Linked DNA regions of Homo sapiens: regions 1, 2, 3 and 4 are each linked to region 5. Evidence: fine-mapped expression QTL. A gene starts in region 5. Each other region holds a variant in brackets. All regions are shown on one strand. Distances are from middle to middle.

Region 1 (5,107 bases), 180 kb before region 5:
TGTTTCTGGACACTATTCTGTGATCTACTTATCTACCTGGGTGCTAGTAACAATATTCTTTTACTAAGCTTGCTTTTAATAGTTTTGATATTTACTAGAGCAACTTCTCCACTTGGTTCTTCATTCAGAATATCTTGGCTATTCTTGGTTTTGTTGTCATTGCATTTCGTTATACACTTTAGAATTTATTTAAAAAATTTATTTCCCAACTCTCTGTTGCTAGTATGTAGAAATTCAATGAACCTTTGTATATTAAACTTGTATCCAGCAACCTTGCTGTATTCATTTATTCATTCTAACAACTTATGCAGACTTTTTTTTGCATTAGCTATATAAACAATCCTACTGTCTTAGTTCTTTCCCCTTGATTACCCCTCCACCTCCCTTTTCCCCCCTGTATTTCATGGGCTATTTCACCTTTCCAACATAAGGATAAATGTAAGCAGTGAATTGTGATTGACTTTTGCCTTGTTCTTAATAGCAAAAAGAAAATCTTCAACATTTCTTCAACCAGTCCAATGTTTGCTATAGGGGTTTTTGTAGGTATTCTTCAGAATAAGAAAGTTCTCTTCTACTCCAAATTTGCTGTTTATTTTTACTATCACAATTGAATGCTGAATTTTATTATACTTTTTTCCCTGTACTAGTTGATAATGATTTTATTAATATGGTGGTTTTCTAATTGACTTAACATTTTTTTTTTTTTTTTTTTTTGAGACGGACTCTCGCTCTGTCGCCCAGGCCGGACTGCGGACTGCAGTGGCACAATCTCGGCTCACTGCAAGCTCCGCTTCCCGGGTTCACGCCATTCTCCTGCCTCAGCCTCCCGAGTAGCTGGGACTACAGGCGCCCGCCACCGCGCCCGGCTAATTTTTTGTATTTTTAGTAGAGACGGGGTTTCACCTTGTTAGCCAGGATGGTCTCGATCTCCTGACCTCATGATCCACCCGCCTCAGCCTCCCAAAGTGCTGGGATTACAGGCGTGAGCCACCGCGCCCGGCCTTTCTTTTAATTTTTAAATTTAATTTTTAAAGACATGATCTCACTATTTTGCCCAGGCTGGTCTTTTACTCCTGGGCTCAAGTGATCCTCCCACCATAGCCTCCGGAGTAGCTGATACTATAGGCATGTACCACTGTGCCCAGCTTTTAAAAAATGTTGTACCAATCTTACATCCCTAAAATATATAGTTTGTTAATATCATGTTTAGGGTCTTTGGATTTATGTTAATGCATGAGGTTGGCTTTTCCATGCTTTCAAAGTTATTGGGTTCAGGGTTCAATATGTCTACTAAGGCTAACCCTAACTGCATTGTTCAAATACTTAATATCCTTAGATATTATTTTTGTCTGCTTATTCTAGTACTAGGAGAAATTTATTAAAAATTTCCACTGTGATTGTGGATTTCTCTACTTTTCCTCTTAGTTCTGTCAGCTTTTGCTTAATATACTTTAAGGCTATGCTCCATACTGATATAATCACCCTTATCTTGCTCTCTATTCTTTTCCGAAACTACATCTTCCCTGACATTTTTTTCCTGTCTCAAGAATACCCGTTAGTATTTCTGTTAGTGAAAGTCTGCTGGCAATGATTCACTAGAGTTTATCTAAAGTATCTTTATTCCCTTTTCATTTTTCTTTTTGCGAGGGGGCAGGGCAGGGATATAGAATTCTAGGTTGGCAATTATTTACTTTCAACCCTTCAAAGATAGCATTCTATTTCCTTCTGGCTTACATATTTCTGTTGGTAAGTCAGCTGTCAGTCCAATATTTACTCCTCTGAAGGTAATCTGTGTTATTTCTTGTGTAAATTAACTACTGCTGTATAACAAATTATCCCAAAACTCAAGGGCCTACAATAAGAACATCTGTCAGTTCCCGTGAAGCAAGAAAACAGATGCAGCTTAGCTGGTTTCTCCAGCTCTGGGTCTTGCATAAGGATGTGGTCATCTGAAGGGCTGGCTGGGCAGGGTCTGGCCTCCTGGACCACTCAGGTGGCTGTTCCTTATAAGATGGTGGCTGGAGGCCTCCCTCAATTCCTTGCCACGTGAGCATCTCACAACATGGCAGTTCACTTCATTAGAGTGAGCAAGTGAGAGGGCAAGAGTGCCAATAAGATGGAAGTTCCAGTTTTTAAAAATCTAATCATGCAAGTGACATCCATTACTCTTACCATATTCTATTAGAGGCAATTTAGTAGGTCCAGCCCATGCTCAAGAGGAGACGATCACAGAAGGCATCAGGTAGAATCATAGGAGTCATCTCAGAAGTTGCTGCCCCCATTTTCCAAGCTGCTTTACAGATTAAATATTTGTCACTCAGTGACAAATTTTCAGTGGTTTTACAATGTGTTGTTTTCTATGATTTATCCTTCTTGGGGTTCACTAGGATTCTTGAATCTGTGGCTTGATGTCTGTCTCAGTCTTGGAAGATTCTTAGCTAGCATCTCTCCAAAAGTGCTTCTGCCCCATTGTGATGTGCGAAACAAATCTTTGTGGCGCGTGCCTTATCCTCCATTACAAAGGACATTAGGTA[T/G]ATTTGCTGTGTTTCAAACAAACTGGCAAACAAGGTTCCTACCATTTATTAGTTTGCCAGGGCTGCCATACAAAGTACCACACACTGAGCAGCTTAAACAACAGAAATTTATTCTCTCTTCTGAGGCCTCACTCCCCGGCTTATAGATTATTGTCTTCTCCCTGTGTCTTCTCGTGGTCTTCCCTCTGTATCTGTGTCCAAACTTCCTCTTTTTGTAAAAGAACAGCAGTTATACTGGATTAGGGTCCACCCTAATGACTTTATTTTAACTTAGTTCTTTAAAAACCTTGGCTCCAAATATGGTCACATTCTGAGGTTAGGACTTTATTATATGAATTTTGGGGGTACACAATTCAGCCCATAACACCCACCAAAATGTCCTTTTGCTTGTAATCGTGTTTCCCTTCAAATGCACTACAGAATTTTTTTAGAAGAGGTGAAAATCATGTTACTACTCAAAAACCTGCCAAAATCGTAAATGTGTGCCCTGTTGGGATAAGCATATGTTGTTTGTGAGAAGTTGTGTGTGTTGAGATAAAACATAGTTACTTTACCCAAAGACATAAATCCCTGCTATACTCGTAAGCTGTAAATAACTCCCTTAACCCATGATGTAACGGAGGAGGTTAGTGTGGGCGTAACCAGTCAGAACAATGCAATTGTGAGCTTATAGGAAAAGAAGCACACTAAGTGCCCAGATACCCAGTCAAAGCCCAGCCTGTCAGAGCACGTGGAGGATTGAGTGAGTGCTGACCACCTGAGTCTCTTTAGAGTGCAACGAGCTGGCTGAGAGCACTACGTGCCAACCACATATTGACTCCAGCCCCTTATGCAGACTGGGATGAGAAGTTTCTAAGTGGTGGTCACTAGACACGCTGGCTGGGGCAAGAAACGTGCAAGTGAGACTAAGGCAAAAAGAGAGAGAGAAAAGACTGACCAACCTCGGGAAATGGTGGCCCTGTCTTCTGCTTGCTCACAATTACTGCTTGGCTTATTGAAGGAACGAAAAGAATCACCTCTCTAGGCTAAGTGATGCTCGTGTGAATTTTCTCTCAATACTCTGCTTTCTTGGTAATATTCAAACCCCAAGGTTTGGTGGTGACTTTTGGGTATTATTACTAAAAACTAAAGCACCCATTTTTTCCTCTCTTCTTAGACCCTAAATAGGGATATCAGAACTTAACCTTTCACTGTATCCTATATGTCTTTTACTCTATCATCTATATTTTTCATCATTTGGTCTCTCAGCGATCCCTTCTGGATGTTTTCGACTGAGCTATTTTCCTTCCATTTGCTATTTATCTTTTTTGTGGCTAAACTCATCCATTGATTTCTTAATTTTAGTTATATTTTTCCAGTTCAAGAATTTTCATTTGGTCCCCCTGTCACAGTGTGTCCCTTCTTTTGCTGACGTTTCCAATATTGTCCTTTGTCTCTTTAAACACATCGAATAAAGTTATTTGAAATTCCTGCCTGAAGACTCCACTATCAGGAGCCCCTCTAAGTTTGTTTCTATTTGTTATCGCTTCTTTTGACTTTCATATCGTGTTGTCTCGTCACCTCCTATTTTTGATTGAGACAACGTATGAAAAACTATACAAATAATGCAAGACCAAGGGTAGAGCCGTTTTCCTGAGATTTCTGTTGCTAGACGCCTGAGTGAGCAGCACTCCAGGATGTAGTGCATCACTGACATCACACGTCATAGCACACAAGGGGAACTTTAGTTCAGTTTCTGGGGTGCAAATGGTTGGAAACTGAGTGTGGTCTCTGGGAGGAACTACTTCCGGTTCACTGCGACTCTTCTGATTCAGCCCACTGGGTCCCCTGCCTGTAGCAATGGAGGTTCACCGGGACAGCATCCCACCACCTTGGCTCCCAGGACTCTCATAAGCACTCTTTGGCCTCTTAGCCACTCTGCCTCCTCCTCTGAAGTGAAAAATACTTTCAGAGGAAACAGCAACCCAAATACACTTATCTTCCTGGGCCTCTTTTCACTCCCAGACCCTGGCCCTGTAATTCCTTGCTGTGTCTTGCTAGCTCCCAGGTACCTTTAAACAGTAGCTGAAACTATTCTGACCTGTGTTTCAGTTGCCTTCAGAGGGGTTTGGTCAGAACTACCTAGTTGGGAAGTGCCTTTTCTTTTCTAATATGATTACTTCTCTGAGACAAATCTTCTCTAACCCCTTATCTTCCTTCCTTGACCTCCCACAGTATGCAACCTAAAACAAAGATAAGGCTTTAAGCCCTAAGATGTTGACTGCAGCATTTCTAATGATAAGAAGCAGAAAATAAAATGTCTAACAAGAAGGGAATGGTAGCCGGGTGCACTGGCTCACACCTGTAGACCCAGCTACTCAGGAGGCTGAAGTGGGAGGATCAATTGAGCCCAGGAGTTCAAGGCTGCAGGGAACCATGGTTGTGGCATTGAATTTCAGCCTGTGTGATAGAGCAAGACCCCCTCCCCACCAATACATAAATATATTTAAAAAAGAAGGGAATGCTCAAGTCCATTATGGTACATTTTTGTGATAAAGCCATTACAATTTTTTTGAGGGGTCTCTAGCATACTG
Region 2 (5,107 bases), 110 kb before region 5:
TGCTGGTTGATGTATCCTGGACTAAGGCCAATAGGCCCGAGTCATGAAGAATAAAAGACTGAGAAGAGATCCTTTCTTGTTTTAACAGGAATGATGGGTTAATAGGATCATGAAAATTTCCAGAGAGTTGAGTCACTTGCTATTCAAAAGCTATACCAAGGAAACTCGATCCACTCTTGACCCTCTTGAATTTGTAGGTTTATGGTTTTTGCCAAATTGAGGAAATTATTCTTTTGAATACTTTTTCGGCCTTTTATTAAAGTCCCACATATCCCTGAAGCTTGGTTAACTTTTTTGTACAGTCTATTTTCTTTCTGTTGTTCAGACTGGATAATTTTTATTCCATCCTCCAGTTCACTGATTTTTTTCTTCCAGCATCTCCATTCTGCCACTGAACCCAATCACTGAGTTTTGGCTTTTTATTTCAGGTTGCTGTTTTTTTAGTCCTAAAATTTCCACGTGGCTTTTCTTTGTATCTTCCATTTCTTTGCTGAGATTTTTTCATTTGTTTCCAGTGTGGTCATAATTGCTTACAGAAGCATTTCTATGATGGATGCTTTGAAATCCTCATCAGATTATTCCAACATCCATGTCATCATCTTGGTATTGGCATCTGTTGACTGCCTTTGCTCACTTAAGCTAAGATTTTCCTGGTCCTTAGTGTAACCCATGATTTTAAATTGTACTCTAAACATTTGGGTGTAGTGGTATGAGAAGACTGAATCTTAAGTTTAAGTCTCCTATTTTAGCAGAGCTCGTTCAACAACAGCACGTGGAAGGCAGAGCAGCTCACTACTGCCAGGTTGTGGTGAAGATCTAGGTCCCTCACTCAACCTCCTTTGACACCCGGGGAGAGAGGGGTGCCTCACTACTGCTGGGCAGAGCTGGTTGTTCATGCTCCCTACTCGGTCTCTGCTGACAGTACAGCTGGGCAGGGGTTGGGGGATGCCTCATTACTGCCCAGTGGGGATAAAAACCTGGCTCCCAGCTCCATCTTCTCTGACACCACCTAGCAGGGGTGAGGGGTGCCTCATTATAACCAGGGGAAGGTTTCTGTTTCGGCTCCCCATTCAGCCATTGTTGGTGGGCTGGGGCCACATTCTTTTCCGTGGTGTTTGGCTGAAATAGGGCACTTACTGTCTAAAAGTTTTCTGTCTTAAGTTGTCCCCTTCTTGGTCCTTTAGGGAGAAAGAGTGAGCTTTCCTCAGGGCTTTCTGGTCTGCACCCATTGGTGTTTCTGGGTTGACAGCTTCTCTAACATTAATCAGTCTGAGAAAACCCAGGGAACTTGCCACCTTATCGTTTCTGAGTCTCAAGGCCCCTTGCTAGTATGCCGTCTTCTCCCCACCTGTCACGTGTTTCCATGATTGTTTCATATATGATGACAGGGTTCTGGATGTATTTAGCTGGAGAGATACCGGGAAGTGCATCTGCACCACCTTAATCCAGAATCCCAAGTCCAATTGCCAACGTATTGTTTTTAAGGTGCCAAAGGACTTCCATTAGCAAATGAAGACACAAGTCACTGATCCAGGTTTAAATTTCAGAAGATTAGGATATATTTGTGCAAACAAAAATAAAGGCAGTTAATATGTACTAAGCATTGGCCAGCACTGTTCACGTTACATGTAGTATCTGACCTAATCCTCCCTATGAGCCTCTGAGGCAGGACTTCCTGTTATCCCATTCTACAGAGGGGGAAACAGGCTGGCACAGGTTCACATCCACTCCACAGCAGGGCCAGGGTTGAACCTAGGTCTGCCTGACTCCAGAGCCAGACCTCCTCCCACCACACTGCATAAATTCTGAAACAGGCAACAAGGGGGCTTTCACACCCTGCTCTCATGAGAGCAAACAGTCCGACGGGCACAGTGGCTCATGCCTGTAATCCCAGCAATTTGGGAGGCTGAAGCGGGTGGATCATTTGAGGTCAGGAGTTCAAGACCAGCCTGGCCACCATGGTGAAACCCTATCTCTACTAAAAATACAAAAATTAGCTGGGCGTGGTGGCACACGCCTGTAATCCCAGCTACTCAGGAGGCTGAAGCAGGGTAATCGCTTGAACCTGGGAGGTGGAGGTTGCAGTGAACCAAGATCGTGCCACTGCACTCCAGCCTGGGTGACACAACGAGACTCCGTCTCAAAAAAAAAAAAAAAGATGATGCAGTCTGCCTTTTTGTTTGTATAAGCGTTTTTATTTGGAATTTCACGAATGTAGAATACTTAGATATTAAAAACATTAACTTCAAATGTTTAAGGGCAAGGACTCCTGATTGGTAAAATCATTGGAGTATACTTTTCCACTTCTTTATCAATCAGAGATTTTTTTTTCAGAAACACATTATTAATTCCTAAATATTTTAAAAATGAAAGCCCCAGAAGAATGGCATGTTTCCAAATAAAGTACGAATGATTCTTTTTCTTTGTACTCTCAAAAAGTATGTACGAATTCTATTTCATCTCTGCTAGATCACAAACCACAAACTACAGATTTCAAGTCTTCGCTTTCTTGTCTGTAACCATGCAAGGCAATATAGAATTGGTCCTTTCACAGCATCTGTGCTTTCAGATCTAAACTTTTCCTACAAGGTTA[T/G]GTACCAAAGGAAGAGCATTAGAGGAAAAAGGATACTACATAAACACCACATAAAAATGACAAAGATGCCTACTGAGGCCTGAAATCACTACCAGTGGTTGCGTACTGCAAGACGGCCACTCACCCCAACAGCAAGTCTAGTCTCGCTCCCAGCTGTGAAGTTTCTCTCCTTAAAAGAACAACAACAACAACAAAAGCCCAACATAACCCTCTTCCTTCCAGTCCGTCTTTAGTCTTCTGAATTATAGTCTTCTGAATTATATTCTGGAGTCTCAGAATGCCAGAACTGGAAAGTGCCTTCAGTGACTATGTGGTCCAACAAAAATCATACTTCCACTTACATACGAGGCCCAAGAAAGAAAATTATCCTCATTAAGAAGTTGAAGAAATTGATAATTTCTCGAGATGAGTAGGGTCCTGTTACTCCAATATTATGCATTCTGTACTTAGAAACATGAAGAAATAGAGGTGTTGCTTCATTATGAAAGGGAAGAAGTGGTGGCTTCTTGCAGGAGAGAAGAACGATGCAAAGCTTTATTTTGGGGAATCTGGTCACAGAGAAAATTCATAAATCTCATACTCAAGAGCTGAAAAGAGCCTGGAAAAACTCAGTCCAGTCTCCTTACTTTACAAACGAGGAACACAGCAAAATTATTTTCCCCAACTCATATAATCAGGAGCTTCTAGATCCTCTGATACTCTGTATCCATTCCACTCACCAGACATGCCTGAGTGCCAAGATGGAGAGTGCTCACATCCTAGGACCTTTTTGTACAAATATCAAATTAATTAATTATCAAAATTGAATGTATACAAAGAAACTAGTATTAATTTCATATATTAATCAAATGTTTACTTTTCCCATTCTCATCTTTTCCATGTGAGCCATCCTGTGTACCAAGAACAATCTTGTCAATCTCAGACTGCTCTTAGCTGGGAACTCAGTGACACGATTTTATTCACTTAATGGAGAATCCTAATTTCATACAAGCTCCTCTCTCTCTTTTTTAGGCTAATTGTACCAGATATATGCCCAATTACTTCTAATCATTCGTTATTTCAGTAAAAACCTCAAGAATAGTAAACGCGGACTTATAAGGGTTCCAACTCTGAACAGAGGTTCTACTTTGTTTTACACATTAACAACCCTATAGTTAGCATAATAACGAACACACTGAGCATGTACTCTACTTATGCTTTACAGGTATCATATATTAATTCATCTCATCCTCCCTAGGAGGCATGTACAATTATCCTCATGAAGATAAGTTTCACTGAGACGCAAGCTCCATAAAGGCCAGTATTCGTTCACTGCTGTATTTCCTGAGCTTGGAGCAGGGCCTGGCACATAGTAAGTTCATAATATATACTCACTGAGTAAATGGATAAATGACATTAATAGGGGAAAAATTAAGGTACAAAGAGGTTACAGAACATGATCAATGTCATACAGCTATTGCATAACACAGCTGGGATTCAAACTACTGAGTTTTTTATTGCATTAAGTCAGGGGCCAGCAAACTTTTTCTGTAAAGGGCTAGAAAATAAATAGTTAAGACTCTGCAAACCATACGGTCTCCACTGCAACTACTCAACTGTGTTGTTGTAGTGTGAGAATGGCCATAGGCAATATTAAAGAAATGAACACAACTATGTCCCAATAAAACTTTATTTACAAATAGAGGCCCACAGCATAGTCTGCTCACCCCTACATTAAATCCTCATAAGAATCAAGCTCTTTCCACTACACCTCATGGTCTCTATGAAAGGGAGACTTGCAGACCATTCATGCAGTAGGAATTTGCTTTTGCATTTTTAGGCTATAAAGCAGAATCTCAATTCTCATTTGCATCTTGAAATCAGAACCATGACTCCAGCAGGCAGCTAGAGCTTAAGTGAACAGGCAGGTGCGGAGGGGTGCGTGCAAGTGCACAGACATAGTTAATCCAAAATCTGTTTTCACAAGAAAATCTGACCTTACATTAAGCACTGTGATCTGGAAACAATGCAAAGACTCCATCTGGAAGACAGGCAGGGCACAGGATTGGCCATTTCTGTTCTCATAAGGAAAACAGCCTAACCAAACTAAACACTAACCTGGTTAAACGTGAGGCTGAACATAGCTGAATGCATTAATCATCAGACAGGACAATAAAGGAAAATATGCAAGCTCTCTCCCAACTGTTTACCACTTGTATTTTTCTTGGAACAGAAATGCATTTTATATATTATATGAACCTGTAAAAAACACATACCTGGTAAAACATTTGAACATATACTCTAGATCAAGAGAATACTAAAACATGAAATATTCCATCATCATTAAAGAATTTTGAGTTCACAAAGGTTTAAACACCCACCCGACTCCAGCTATGGTAACAACGACATAACAGAAACTAAACAGCACTTTATGCTAACTGGATATAATCTTGATAATTATAGGCTATTCAGTGTGTAACAAAGTATGACAAACCTCTCCCTAAGGCTGATCCATCTCAGTAAGTAAGGTATCAC
Region 3 (5,107 bases), 63 kb before region 5:
CGCTTGGTGGTGGGTGCCTGTAATCCCAGCTACTAGGGAGGCTGAGGCAGTAGAATCGTTTCAACCTAGGAGGCAGAGGTTGCAGTGAGCCAAGATCACGCCACTGGACTGTAGCCTGGGCAACAGAGCAAGACTCTGCCTCAAACAAAAAAAAAAAAAAAAAAAAAAGAGATAACATTCTTCAAAAGAAAGACAAATTACTTCCTTGTTAGTTCTAAATGTGTATTTACTGTTTTCTAATTAAGAGATTTAAAGGTAATACATTAATATAGTATTCTGAAATCTCAAAATAAATAGCAAAAAACAACTCATATTTTTAATGTCTTGGATCTTTAATTTTATATCATAGCCTTCTTTTGCTAAAGAGTTAAGTGGGAAAATCTAGATTAGAAGTCTAGATTAGTAGTACCATGTTAAAACGAGTCTTGACCAACTCCATCAATTTCACAAAGCTTCATCAACCTCTTTTGTTAAAGGTGTAGCTGCCCAGATTGTTATCGTGAGATACCACTGCTCCTTCAAGAACAGACCTGGGACAGCCCATGCAAAAGGTAACCCTGGACATCTTGTCATAGCAGACAACAAAGACGCTATTACAGGCTACTAGGGTCATGTCAGAAATTCGGAATCAGAAACAACTTGATGAGGCTCCCACCGGCCAGCAGTGGCACATTAAACATCAGAAAGAATTACAACGGTAACGGACTGAAAACAAATCAAGCGGTTTTACAGCTATGGCTTCATAATGAAAATAAAACAAAACAAACCAACTCACTGGTCATCTTTGAATGATGCCACAAAACCAACTCATTATTCTGAAGATTGGTAATCAAGAGGGAAAACAATCGAGCACTTATCCTGCCTTTCTTCATCCAGTGTACCTCACAGAACCTAAGAATTGGTTAGGGAAAGTTTCTCTTTAAAAAATATTCCTGCTAATAAACAAAAAATGAACAATAATGTTAAAATGCCACCATTTTGCAACCCCTAAAGAATTCATGGATCTAGGTGATCATTAATGACTGCTAATATCACAGAGACAACCAAGCCTCATGTGCTTCTTGACGAAAGTAGTATCATCAACAGCGAAACACTACTGCAAAAAATAAACAAAAAAAACTAACCCAAATCTGAATATGCCTCTGGAACGAATTTTCATTCACAGGAAATGCAAGGTAAAGAAGAATATGTTAAGTGCCACCCTGAAGACATACTCATCAAAATCTAAAATCTAGAAAAGTCTACAGGAAAAACAACCCAGTTTCTCCAACAAATAAGTAGCAAAGAGGAAAAAAAGAAGAGGAAAGGGGAACCTATACACTGGAGTAAAGTTATGTCAATCACTTGCCCTTATCTGTAAGGTGTTACAGATAAGGTGGCCCTTATCTGTAAGGTGTTTCAACAAAATAAACTTGAAAAAGATTATTAGACAATGGGGGAAATCTGAATACTATTTATTTGATAATAAATGTTATTATTAGTTATTTTAGATGTTTTCTTCATATTATACTTGTGTCTGAAAACTCCTTATCTTTTAGAGTAACTGATGAAATATGTTGGAGCTTTGATTCAGTCCACGGCAACTGGCATAAGAATGAGTGGAACTGTGGAGGAAAGAAGAATGGTGATGAAGGGGAAGCTGCTGAAGCCAGGGGATGGCATATGGAGTATAAGTACACTTTCTTCTTAGTCTATGTTTGAAATTTTCCACGTTAAAATGACAGAAATAAAATTAGAGGTTGGAAGAGATGAACTGGAAGTCTCCTTCCAGCTCTTAAATTCTATGATATTAACTAAAATAAACCTAAAAGAAAATTAATCTATCCCCACCTAACACATTCACAATTTTACTCATTAAAATCATTTTATTAAGAAAGTGTTTCTAATGAGCATCTGGAAATTAGTAACGAAAGAACAGCCAGGAAAAATTACTGTCTTAAAAAATAAGATTAATGAGTAAAATGCCCTTCCAGATATTTAAAAGTCTTATGAAACTAATATTAATTAAATCAGGCACTAGGGCAAAAAAAAAAAAAAAAAAAAAAAGACAAGCAAATGAAGGGAACATCGTGAAAGATTTTGAAGTGAGCAAAAAAAAAAAGATTAGTCTCCTGTCTAGCTCACCTGTCTCAGTTAACACTGTCATTTCGTATCTTTGAGCAATTTTACAGCTTTGTAAGTTACAGAAAACTTATATTAATACAGAATTATTCCTGTCCATTAAAATGCAAATTAGTTATATCTGCCTGGACTGCAACTACTTTGTTGATAGATCAGTTTCTGCATTTTTTTGTGTGTTCATTTCAGTGTTCCTTTATGGCATATAAACACATACCTCTCTGAATTCTCCCTTCTCCAGTTGTTAACATCTTACTGGTTCCCTCCAATTTGTTTGGAGGGAACCAGTAATTGATCCAAATAAATAAAAGAATTTAGGATATGATATAGGTAGGTGGGAGGATCCTCAAGCCCAGGAGTTGGAGAATATAGCAAGCTACGA[C/T]TGCACCACTACGCTCCAGCCTGGGGAACAGGGCGAGACCCTGTCTCAATTAAAAAAAAAAAATTAGTGGAAAGGATAAGATTATTCACTAAATGGTACTGAAATAATAACAGATAACATTTAGGGAACATTAACTATGTACCAATCTGTATATTAAATGTTTATATTAAAATACAACCTGGCCGGGCACGGTGGCCCATGCCTATAATCCTAGCACTTTGGGAGCCCGAGGCGGGTGGATCACCCAAAGTCGGGAGTTCAAGACCAGCCTGGCCAACAAGGCGAAACCCCATCTCTACTAAAAATACAAAAATTAGCCGGACATGGTGGTGGGTGCCTGCAGCTACACAGGAGGCTGAGGCAGGAGAATCGCTTGAACCTGGGAGACGGAGGTTGCAGTGAGCCAAGACCACACCTCTGCATTCCAGCCTGGGCAACAGAGCAAGACTCTATCTCAAAATAATAATAATAATAATAATAATAATAATATAACCCATTTCAAGAAAAAGAAGGGCAGAGAGAGGCTAAGTAACTTTTCCAAGATCATATGCCTGTAACAGAAGAAATCAAGATTCAAACCCAGTCAGTCTCACACCAAAAGATTTTATAATCTTGGATAGTCAAAAGACATAAATAATTCATTTGGATCCATAACTCACTCCTTACTCAAAAATAAATTCTAGATAAATAAAAAATGAGAACTAAGTACTGAAAGAACTAGACTATGTAGGTTTGTATTTCCACAATCTAAGTGGAGAATTTACTTAAAAAACAAACAAACAAACAAAAATCTTCTTGGCTGTCAGTTGTCAAAAAAAAAAAAAAAAATCCAGAGGCCAGAAGGATAAAATTGATAACCTCAACTAGATTAAACACAAACAAAAAACGACTACAAGGCTAACAGAACATCAGAAATAAATTCAAACAAAAATTACGTAAACAATAGTTTACTGTATGTATGACAGAAAGACTAATTTCCAGAAAATGCTTTTTAATAAATGCATTTTAAAGAGTAACCTAATATGCAAAAACAAACATAATGGTCACTGAAAAACATTAACGAGAAATAGTAATTAAATCAGATCTGCAAAAGGCAACTCGTGCAATCTTGTGTTGCACTGATGTGCAACTTAGAAATCTCTCTAAAGTTTTTAAATACACATAATTCTTCAACCCAGCAATTCAACTCCAGGAATTTATAACCTGGATTTGATTTACTTAACCGAAATTTGTACAAGGATGTTCACTATAACATTATTTGTAAAGGTTAAAAGAAAAAAAAAGCAACCTGAAAGCAGCTGGAAAGTCTATAGGGAACAAATGAAAAAATTATGATGAGTCTATATAGTTAAATATTATTCAACTATTAAAAACATACAATGAATATACACATGCTAAAGTGCAAAGATGTACAAGTTACATCATAAGTAAAAACAGCAAGTTGAAGAATAGTGCAAAAAATGAAAACAAAAAACATATAGGTGTGTATATACAAAAAAAGACCTTTGAAAAGAAAACAAAAAAAAAAGGATATGCAGATCTATAGAAAACAAATGGAGGCTGGGCAAAAAGGGGAAAACTTTGTAACTTTTTTTTTTTTTTAAGATGGGAGTCTTGCTCTGTCGCCCAGGCTGAAGTGCAATGGCACAATCTCAGTTCACAGCAACCTCCGCCTCCCGGGTTCACGTGATTCTCTGCCTCCGCCTCCCGAGTAGCTGGGACAGCCTCCCGAGTAGCTGGGATTACAGGCATCCGCCACCACACCCGGCTAATTTTTGTATTTTTAGTAGAGACGGGGGTCTCACCATGTTAGTCAGGCTGGTCTCAAACTCCTGACCTCAGGCAATCTGCCCACCTCGACCTCCTAAAGTGCTGGGATTACAGGTATGAGCCACCACGCCTGGCTGAAACTTTGTAACTTTATGTTTCACTGACTTCAGCTTAAATAATTTTTAACAACAAAGCAAGCATTATTTGCGTAATACAAAAATTTAAGCCCTTAATATGTGGAAAAAATACACTATTTATTGTAGAATATGTATTAAATATGTATTATGTAATTAAATATGTAATACCTACTGCATAACAGGTACTACAGTATGGCCTAACCTGGGGTTGCAAAGATTAAAACAGAATGCAAATCCCACAACCTGGCAACAATTATTGTAATATATGGATATCAGAAAATACAAAGCTAAAAGGAATGTTTTTTGAGCTTTCAGAGAAAAGGCAAGGCTTGCTACAAGTGAACAAGATTCTGAACTGACAAAAATATATCAAAAACTGGAAACAAGTATACAAAATATATCAAAAGACAGGAATAAGTACATTAACATGAGAACCCAAAACTATTTTTATAAAGAAACGTATGAAGAAAACCTTGGGATTTTAAAGCCAAACAATTACATAAATTAAAAAACACATGCTATAAATACAACTGTTTCCATTCTCACTTTTCAGTCATAGCATTGAGAACTTTACTGAATATCTATCTTGTCCTAAAAAGATCACCAATGAGTAAATGCAGTGGTTTGGCAGAAGAATGGCTGGGGTGGAAGAGGCAGGTGGAAAACCCTGATTTGTAGCATTTGCTGGTTTCCATGGCAC
Region 4 (5,107 bases), 71 kb before region 5:
CTTCAAAATTGAGAACTGAAGGGGCCAAATAAAGTTTGTCTTTACATGTTGAACTTTTTCATACAGTACAGACTTACTTTAAAATTAAGGTATGCTTATAGTAAAAGATTTATAGGCACATATATTTGACATGGGATCATCAAGTATGTGACTGCTGGGAATATTTTAAATCAGGGAGGAGGAAGGAGGAGGAGAAGAAACTGAATAGCAGTTCCATAACCTTTAGCAGAACGGATATATGGCCCATCCTAGTCAATACAATTTCCTTGGCGGGCGGAAGGTAGATAAACTAGATCATCTGTCTGTCCGATTTGAAAAATGCACTTAGCTTTATGAAATAAACGTTTGGTTTTTCTTCTAATAAAGATTCACTTAAAGAGGTTATGACAATAGTGAAAAGAAGAAGAATAGGGAAGAAAAAGGTAAACCATACATTCCTTATTCTAACAAAGAAGAAGCTGAAGAATGCTTTCTTCATGTTTATAGCATTAGTATCTTTGTGCTTCTTACAATAGAAACCAAAACAGAATCTCCATTTAGGTCCACAAAAGTTTAGAAGTAAACTAATCACTACAGTTGTAGCAAGGAAATACTACACAAGTCGAGAACAAAAAAACAAGGTAAGAATAGAAGTCAGTAAGGATTTGACACCTCCCTACCATGACGAGGTAAAGGGAAGTCTAGCAATTCCTTTACAATTCAGGAAACACTACATCTATCACGTGTACAGACTTAAGCATTAAAGACTCATGAGAATTTGGGATAAAATACATTTCTGTGCAGATTTTCAATCTGAGGCAACGTACCTTGATTCTCTTAAATCTTGCCCAAAGACAAGTATCTCAAAGAAAGATGACCATCCTTCCAGTTGATACCATGCTCCTGGCAGTCCAGTGCCTGTCCTTAGAGAGAAATGCTCCTGGCACAGCCAGCCCAGAGGACACATCACCCCCCTGTTCCTTTCTGACAGGCCTCACCACACGGACTTTTGCTACAGCTCCTAGTGGACATGTGTCATTCCACCACTAAAGCGACTGTCTTCTCCAGAGCATGCAGCACACGGCAATTCTCACTCAGCAAGTGCTAGCTGAGTTAAATCACACTTGGTCTCGGGGCCTTGGTTTCTTCATTTAGAAAATGATGGTGGAAATATCTTTTCAGCCCTTTCCACAGAGGTATCATAAGGCTCCAACAAACTAAAGCAGATGAAAAGAGCTCTGGAAAATGGAAAGTGCCACACAAGTGTAAGAGGGCCATCCAGCAGGTGGGCACCATACTCACTGCAATGGATGAAGTTACACAGACAACACAGACACAGTTGGGCTTGAAAGAGTCTTGCTCAAAATTCAGAGGAATCAGGCAGTACACAAAGATTTTAGGAAAATCTGTGTCATGAGTAGTTTTGAGATTCTGATTCAAAGAGGCAAGCATGGTCCCCAGATGATGCCAGAATGGAAGCTCCACAGAAGATATTAATACCTTGCCTGAATTACCCGTCAAAGGATCCCCAAGCCAGCAAACATTCGTATTTGATGAATGGGTGAATCAGAAACAAGGATAAGAGGACCCCCAAGAGCTCCCAACTTCAACCAGGAGGGAGTCTAAGGGGCCTGGCTGGCCTAGGAGACGCAGACTGACCAGCCTCCAGCCTGAAGTCCTGCAGGAAGTCTATTTTAAACCCTTTTCTCCAACCTTTTGGCAAGTTCTCACCATGGGGCAGGAAGTGAGCACAGGCCTGGGAACTCAATAGGCAAACAAATCCAAATTCTACCCTGGGCTCTGCACCTAACTGGATGGCCTCTCCTTAAAATGTGGTTACCAGAACCTGCTTTGCAAGGCTGATGCAAAGATTAAAGTTGATAATATATGTAATTCACTAAGCACAATGCAAGGACATAGTAAACACTAAACAATAAATCATCAGTCCCTTTTGTCTTCTGGGCAAAGGAGGAACCCAAATTAGGCTAGATGATACGAAATCCCTCCCAACTCAGATCTTTAGTCTTGGAGCAGAGACAGAGCCAAATTTCCCTTAAAGCCCTAGCTGGGTTAGAAGTGAGACAATCCATCAAGACAAAACACTGAGAATTACTGGTCCCGTGATAAAGACCTGCTACATAACCATCCATTCCATTTTCCCAAAACTATAACCAAAGTCATCTGAGTGCGAGTGAATTCCATCCCTTGAGGCAACAATGAGCAAGGCAAATATCTGTAACACCCAGCTGGAACAAGGATTTGGCTACAAGAATAAAGAACACTCTAGCACATCCAGAACAAGATTTCGGCGTTGTGTCGGTCTTTGGAAGGAGGAAAAAAATCCCAGAGGTAATGCTTTCAGGTTCAGGCCTTTTGTTGACACACGTAAGAAACTGAGAGAAACAGAGGGCATTTGAGTTGATACTCAAAGAATGAACTCCTTCATACCCTCTAAACTGTTTGCTGAGAAATCAGCAGTGCTATTAGCAACTGCACAAGTGACAGGACACACCATCGACTTCCTGTGCGCCCCAGTGACCTCTGCACAGCAGCACTTGGGCACACTCCATATTTACTTATGGTGCAATCTGATCCTGACTTCAGTGAGTTATTTCGCAAGCCTTTTAAGGGTTACTGCATTTTGTTCCTATAAGAGGCCAGTCCAAATTAGCAACAAAAGAATAGTTAAACACAAGAAAAACCACCTCTTTTGTGCTCAAGAAAGGCAGTCCTGGTCATTAAAAAGGTAAAGTGCTTTATTCGCTATCAACTTTCTTTTGCAAAAATCAGTCCAGTAATTTCCCAAGGGGG[GA/A]ATCAGTAGTCTCACTCTCCTGAAGATGAGGATTGCCAAAATGGTGCGCCCATATACTAAAAGTGCAAGTTGTCTAGCGTTTGGTTCTGCGCCATGTCTCACAGGAATTATTCCAGCTATCAACGGCTACATAACAAATTACCCTAACATTTAGCATCCTAAAGCGGCCGTTTTATTTTCAATCTTTCTCCCCGCTTTTGTTTTTCAGACTAGATGATTTCTACTGATGTATCTTAAAGTGTACTGGCTCTTTCCTCTGTGATCTTTCTTGAGGTTAAGCACATTCGGTATTTTTTTTTTTTTATTTTAGATACTGTATTTTTCAGTTCTAGGATTTCCATTTGGTTCTTTTTTATAGTTTCTATTTCTCTGCTGAGATATCCCACCTTTTCACTCTTATGAAGCGTATCTCCTTTACATCCTTGAGCACGGTTACATTTGGTACTTTAAAATCCTTGTCTGCTAAGCCCAGTATCTGTGTCCTCTCACAGTCAGTCTCCGCTGATCATCTTTTCAATTGAGAACAGGTCACATTTTCCTGAACGTCAAGCAATTGTAAACTGTATCCTGGACATTACAGGATACATTATGCTGTGGCAATTCTGGATTATATTATATTCCTCTAAAGAGTGTTGATTTTTTTTTTTAGAGGGCAATTATTAATTATCTACAGTGTAAGTTGGACTTAATACTATAAACTCTAGGGTGGGAGCTCAAATCTCAATACAATGACTTCATCCTTAGCTTAGCTGCCTGGAGCCTGCCCCACACGTGTGATTCAGCCATTAGCAGAGATTTAGGTAGCTGACACCCAGAGTTTGGGGTCTGTTTTCTACTTTCCACAATTCCCCCCTCACTTTCCAATGCCATGGTTGCCCTCAAACTGTTCTTTGATTCTTCAAGCTAGAAAGACGGAAGATTTTGTAACTGACTTTTCACTGCCCTGCATGCCACACACTGTGTCATTCCCTTCTTCCAAGCATCAATTTCACTCCAGAATCTGCCCGTTTGTGTCAAATTCGAGTGTCTTCACATGGCTATTTTTTGTCCAAAGTTTATAATTGCTATTTGAAGAAGGATCAGTCCAACAGTAACTGACTGGGCTACTAACTGAAGCAGGACCTATATCCCTTATTTTTTTTTTCTATTTTTTACTTTTTCTCATAATACTATGGGTCATAAATTCAGGAAGGACTATGCCCAGTAGGGGGGCCCTGATCTATGTGGCATCAGCTGGGCAAGTAAGAAACTGAGGATGGATCTACTCCCAAGATGGTTTCTCGCACACATCTCATGCCTTGATGTTCCTTCACCAGACCTTTCCTCTCTCCTCATTGTATCTTATCTTCCAGGGCTTTTCCATGTGTATTCAGCAACTCGCAGCAAGGTGATCTCTGGGAATCTATACTTCTTACATAGTGACGGGCTTCTAAGAAGCCAGAAATAGAATCAGCTAGACCAGTTAAGGGCTATGCTACAAATGGTATAGGATCACATATTTGATTGCTCACAGCAGCCACAGGGCCTGCCCAGATTCAAGTGGATGGAGAAATAGATGCCAACCCTCGACAGGGGAGTGGCAAAGTCATACTGCAGACACACATGTACAATGCAAGACATTCTGCCACCATCTTAGAAAAATATAATCTGGCAGAAATTTAATTAATATTTAACTAAGCAAATCAAATGCCACCCGAAGTAAAACTCCAGAAAAATACAGAAAGGCGAGATCAATCTGAAGCATGTGGTCCAACTGCCCTGAGATCTTTCTTACCATTCTCTCACATTCTCAATATAACTACCTTTAAGCTCTTCTGCACATAAGAGGTTTCTAAAAGCAGCCTACTAGGTCCTCAAAGACTTCATACTTAAATATTATATTCCTTTTATATCCATTTTAAAACATCTAGAAGAAAAGGCTTATGATGCTATCGTCCATAAACATAGGATATAGATCTAAGCTTTGTTTTTTAAGATAATAGGCAATAATAACTAGTGTTTATTAAATATCTACTGTGTGTTAGAAATTTGTCTAGGCTCCAAAGAGCCTATATATTAACATATACATATATATATATACACACACACACACACGTGTGTGTGTGTATATATATGTGTGTGTGTGTGTGTGTGTGTGTGTGTGTGTGTGTGTGTATTCATATAAAATATATATCTCTCTATCCAAGCTACTTTCTAAGCACCTCAAGCTTTCACTCCAAAAGAGTGAATGTCTTCCAAGGACTATATTCTAAATGAAGCCATACATGTATAATACATACTAAGAAATCCTCTTACCTTGTCTTGGTTATCTTTATT
Region 5 (5,107 bases):
ACCCTTATAATTTGTCCAAAGACAAAGAGAAGCAGTGACAGAACCAGGACCAGAAGCCTGTCCTTATAAACCCTGATCATGAGTTCTCTGCACCACCACACAACTGTGTCTTTCCATGCCAGGACCTGCACATCAGTTCACCTTTCCTGGTCTCCAATCTCTGCCTGGAACAAGGACACTGTCCCAGAACTCAGATGAAATCTGGGAAGCATCCTCATTTCCTCATTCTCCCCCCCACAATCCAACTGGTCCGAGTCCTGTCCATTCAACCTTGTATCTCTCAGTATTTATTCTACTCATCCCCACAATGTCCTAATTTAGGCACTTTTCTCTTTCACATGGGCTTCCGCTACCACTCCTTAAAGGTCCCCCCTGTCTCTAGCTTCGTCCTCTCATTTATTCCCCACAATGGAGGCGGAGGCGGCCAGGAAGATCTAACAGGCAGATCTTATCGCGCCACTCCCTTGACAAAAACCATCAATGGTTCTCTGTAACTTCTTCCCTCACAAGAGATAGAGTCAAGAAGGGCCTTCTAAACTGGCTCAGGGGCTTGGATTTTCTCCAAGTTATAAAAAGGGAACTGATGTCTGACTAAATGTCTCTTCTGTACGAGAAACCTTATCTATGTTACTTAATTGTCTCATCGGTTTTGCAAAATTAACATATGGCCCCTTTGCAGACACTGTTCCCTCTAGTCCTCTCATCTATAACCGAGCACCTGAAATAACCTTAAAAAGCCTCTCCTGGCTCGCCAATCTTCCAACATATCCACATGCTCCCCTGTGCCACCACCTCTTGTATAGATTTCCATTACAATGTGTTTATTTAGCTATTTCCCAAATATGCCTGATAAAAGGGATCACTCACATCATTCCTCTCTGTACCCTCAGACCCCAACAAAAAAATCTGTTTCATAGTAGGTGCTCAATAAATGGTTGATGACTGGGTTATTAACTAAAAGGAGGGTCCATCATGATACAGAAATGCCTAAGCATTAAATCAATAAATACATCTCCCCCAAAGGCCCATAGAGCAGTACCAGGGACTTTTATTAATAGCATTCCTTCAGCAGCTCCACATTTCCCAAAGTGATGTGAGGTAAAGGAAGTGCTCAGACCAGGTGTCTAGTTTAAAGAGAGGAAGTCCTCTAGTGATCACCTAGGCTGACCCAAGTCTCAGTATTTCTTTCTTCAATGTTCCCTCTGCTTTGTACATACATACCCCCACAGCTGTGTTATCTTGTACATACTAGTACAGGAGAGAGCAAGGACTTTCCATTTTCCTACCCCATCACCTAGCACAATAGCTGATACATGGGTAACTACCAATCAATGTGTTAAGTGATAATATCAGCTACATTTAGTGCTATGTACAGGTATGTCCTAAGGATTTAATATGCATTATATCTCATTTACTCCTTATGACACTATCACCAGGGAGGTACTGTTCAACTTTACTCCCATTAAATAGACAAGAAAACTGAGGCCCAGAGGACAGAACAAGATCAAACAAGCATTGACTGAGGGCTTCGCACATTTTATATTTTCACGTACTTTATTTCATTTATTCCTCTGTACAATCCAGCAACTAAGCTGTGTATTATAGTCCCATTTTTAGACAAGAATTCTAAGGCCTGGAGAAACTGCACAGTAACACGCAGCTTGCAAGGCCAGGAACCAAATCCACAACTGTCGACTCCTGGGCACCTTCTCTTTTTGCCTGGCTATCTTGCCCCTCAGTGGCATCAGGACTGGACTGGTCTCTCCAGGCCCGTGCTCTTCCACACTGCACAGAGCGCTGCCCCCAGGGCAGATGGTGCAGCCTGGGCTCTAACGCCGAGGAGAAAGGAGTGCCAGTCCCACTCCATGCCTAGAGACTGCCATCCCCGCAACTGCCCAATTCCCGCGTCCGTAACACGGGTCTCTCCCGCTAAAACACACGCTTTATGACTCTGGGGGCCGCGTGGGTCTTGCAGCCAGGGCCTGGCGCAGCCCTCGCACATGACAGGGGAGGCCTAACCGTGTGTTGGGTCAACATCACCGGCACGCCGCGGCAAGGGCTCCCGGGATCGCGGCTTCGCACCCGGACTGGCTGCGGTGGGGGAGCGGGGCGCCCGCCCCAGGCCCCGCGGGGACCCACGAGCACGAGGCGGTGCCTGGGAGTCGGGAGGCCTGGGTGGCGCTCAGGCAGCCCGCGCAGGCCTCGCCCTCCGCGTCTCCAGCGAGGCGGGGGCGGCGCCTGGGTCCAGGCCGGGGCCGCCGCGGGAGTCCCGGCCGCCCTCCCCTGCCCGGGGCAGCCCCCCGGCCGGACCCGTTACCGGTTCCGCTGCTCTTTGAAGAGCGCCGTGAGCGCGCGCAGGGCCTCCAGGTCTTGGATGGGCGCCGGCACCATGACGCCCGACAGCCTGGCAGGCGGCGGCCTGGGCGCCGCCATCTTGCCGCTCACAGCTGGGTCGAGCCTGACGAGGAGGAGGAAGGCGAGGAGGACGAAGGGGGAGGATGACGAGGAGGGAGGAGTAGGATGGCGAGGAGGAAGGGGGAGGCCTCGCCCTACACAGCCCTAACCGCCGCCGCCGCTGCAGCCCGCGCTGCCCTGAAGCTGCGCCGCCGCCGGAGAGCTCTAGGCTGAGCCCAGACTCGCCTCAGGCGGGAGGAGGAGACGGCGCCGCGGGGGAGGGGGCGCCGGCGGAAGTCCCGCCTGAGGGGAGGGGGCGCGGCGGAAGTTCTGGGTGAGAGCGGGGAGGGATGCTGGGGGTGATTGACTGGGAAGCGTCGCAGACGGGGCTCCTCCGAGGGGAGGGGACGCCGGGGGGAGGGGGACCTGTGTTGATGTGGCCGTAACAGGGTCTCGGTCTTGGGAGCGGGTATCGGGAACCAGAGGTTCACCCTGAGAAAGAGGGGCGCGTCCTATAGGAGGGTGCCCGCGGACAGAGGGGTCTCCCCCAGGGGAGGGGATCCGGGGGGTAAGGGGCCTGTGGAGGGTGGGGCCGTAACAAGGTCTCGGTCTTGGGAGCGGGTATCGGGGACAGAGGTTCACCTTGAGGAAGAGGGGCCCTCCTGTGGGAGGGGGCCCGCAGACAGAGTGGTCTCCCCCAGGGGAGGACATTCTGGGTGGAGGGGACCCTCTTGGGAGGAGACGCTGACTGAGGGTCTCGGGAACGAAGGGGGCCGGGCAGAGGCTCCCACTGCTAAGGCTGAAGACCTTGATCCCACTGCTCAAGTGGGTTGATCAGTGCCCCCGCCCGGGTCCACTGGAAGCTGGAGCGGTCTGTCACTAGCTTGCAAGTCTCAGGCCCTGAAAACGCACTTCCCAGTACTTACTGATCATTGCTGATCAATACCAGACCACTTACCAGGCACTTTGCCTCTAGTGAGTATACATTGCTCCAGCTCCTCAAAGCCTTAAAATACCGTTCGAAGTCAAGAAGCTAAGTTACACAGCAATAGGGTTAGAATTGTTTTTTTTCCTAAGGGAAATGAATATATTTCACAGGAATCAGACAAGGCTTCTCTAGCTGGTGTTGATAACTCACATATTTTCTTTCCACTGCCCTTTATTACAGTGTATATACTTTCAACAAAAATTGTTGCTAAGCCCTGCGCTAGGTGCTGGAGATGTAAAGATTAATAAAAGACAGTTCCAAACCTGAAGGAACCTCACAGACTATTGAGAAGGAGAGAAGCAAACATAACTGAGTATAGTTGTGAACTGCTATAACTGTACAAATTGCTGTGGGACCACTTAAAATATATAAATACATACCCTTTACATTCTGCTTGGAGGGTAGGAGTGTGCTTATAACATGGCGCTTTTAACATTCTTTGCTAAATAAAATGTAAAGATAACAATAAACACCACCAGAGTATGCAGAAAAAGTGAATCCTGGTGGGGCATGGTGGCTCATGCCTGTAATCCCAGCACTTTGGGTGGCCAAGGCAGGAGGATTACTTGAGCCCAGGAGGTCGAGGCTGCAGTGAGCTGTGATCACACCACTGCACTCCAGCCTGGGTGGCAGAATGATACCCTGTATCAAAAAAAAAAAAAAAAAAAAAAAAAAAGGAGGGAGGGAAATGAATGCTGCTGCACAAGCAAGTTACTTGATATTGTCATTCAGTTTACCCATTTAATTGAGTATGTATTTATTCATTCCACGAATATTGCGGTGTACTATGTGCCAGGTATTAGATCACTTATTAGTAGCAGTGCTCAAGACAATGCAAAATGTTTAACACTCCTTAAGCTAACAGGGCAAAAATCTCTTAATTTTCCCTTGAGGAGCACAGGATAGTAAAATGTACTTGTTATGCACCAAAATCCTGATCTTTAGGCCAGACACGGTGGCTCATGCCTGTAATCCCAGCACTTTGGGAGGCCGAGGCGGGCAGATCACTTGAGGTCAGGAGTTCAAGATCAGTCTGGCCAACATGGCAAAACCCCCTTTCTACTAAAAATTAGCCAGGCATGGTGGCGGGTGCCTGTAGTCCCAGCCATTTGGGAGGCTGAGACAAGGGAATTGCTTGAACCTGGAAGGCACACGTTGCACTGAGCTGAGATCATACCACTGCATTCCAGCCTGGGCAACAGAGGGAGACTCTGTCTCAAACAAACAAACAAAAAAACCTGGCCTTTAGTTTTCTTATTCTCAAATGTAACATTCCCAGAAAAACATTCCCTATAATATTCATACTTCTTGCCTGGAATATTGTAATATATTCCTGATTGGTCTTTTGGCCTCTGCTCTTGCTTCCTTACGTTTTAGATCGTTTAAAAAATATTTCAACATTTAACTCTGCCCAAAACCCTCTAAGGGATTTCCATTTCACTCAGAGTAAAAGCCAAGTTCTTCCAATAGAAAAGCCCCTAAATGACCTGCCTCCTCCTTCGCCATCACCTCCAGCCCCTGTGGGCTCTAATCACATCTACTAGCCTCTTCCTCTTCCATTGTGCTTCAGCCATACTGACCTCCTTATTGTCCTCTGTCTATTTAAAAGGAATAAGCTGAGGTAAAATCAATATAAAGAGTTTATTTGGGCCAACGTGAGCATTGCAGTCCAGGACACACATCCAAGTTGCCTTGGGGAGTGCTCTGGAGAACGAAAGAGAAGCT

Which allele goes with the higher level. Alleles are on the strand shown, and positions count from the first base shown. SD is a standard deviation of normalised expression in the study named. Not every link is listed here.
As copies of G replace T in region 2, the expression in testis of the gene that starts at base 2,663 in region 5 goes down (small effect, 0.14 SD a copy in GTEx).
With allele C in place of T in region 3, the expression in esophagus muscle of the gene that starts at base 2,663 in region 5 is lower (small effect, 0.26 SD a copy in GTEx).
In carriers of allele A in region 4, the expression in transverse colon of the gene that starts at base 2,663 in region 5 tends to be lower than with GA alone (small effect, 0.23 SD a copy in GTEx).

What was found. PIP is the estimated chance that this variant, and not a neighbour inherited with it, causes the effect. A credible set is the group of variants that fine-mapping cannot tell apart.
Region 1: its variant is the best candidate, but not a certain one, in a credible set for the expression of ATXN10 in sun-exposed skin (GTEx, PIP 0.70).
Region 2: its variant is the best candidate, but not a certain one, in a credible set for the expression of ATXN10 in testis (GTEx, PIP 0.82).
Region 3: its variant is the best candidate, but not a certain one, in a credible set for the expression of ATXN10 in esophagus muscle (GTEx, PIP 0.84).
Region 4: its variant is the best candidate, but not a certain one, in a credible set for the expression of ATXN10 in transverse colon (GTEx, PIP 0.56).

What each region holds. Positions count from the first base shown.
Region 1 is chr22:45,849,682-45,854,788 of GRCh38, reverse strand. No RefSeq gene overlaps it. Among named protein-coding and RNA genes, the nearest start is that of MIR4762, 92 kb to the right of the region's middle. The variant T/G (reference allele first, on the strand shown) is at 2,535.
Region 2 is chr22:45,777,137-45,782,243 of GRCh38, reverse strand. All of the region lies in intron 9 of ATXN10 (ataxin 10), which reads right to left. Among named protein-coding and RNA genes, the nearest start is that of MIR4762, 19 kb to the right of the region's middle. RefSeq lists a silencer at 4,549-4,608. The variant T/G (reference allele first, on the strand shown) is at 2,594.
Region 3 is chr22:45,732,752-45,737,858 of GRCh38, reverse strand. All of the region lies in intron 7 of ATXN10 (ataxin 10), which reads right to left. Among named protein-coding and RNA genes, the nearest start is that of MIR4762, 25 kb to the left of the region's middle. The variant C/T (reference allele first, on the strand shown) is at 2,501.
Region 4 is chr22:45,740,518-45,745,624 of GRCh38, reverse strand. ATXN10 (ataxin 10) reads right to left here. Exons shown (of 12, transcript NM_013236.4): 9 at 5,087-5,107. Among named protein-coding and RNA genes, the nearest start is that of MIR4762, 17 kb to the left of the region's middle. The variant GA/A (reference allele first, on the strand shown) is at 2,791.
Region 5 is chr22:45,669,390-45,674,496 of GRCh38, reverse strand. It overlaps ATXN10 (ataxin 10), which reads right to left and starts at 2,663. Exons shown (of 12, transcript NM_013236.4): 1 at 2,318-2,663. The coding sequence starts at 2,433. RefSeq lists silencers at 2,031-2,360, 2,691-2,740, 2,801-2,990.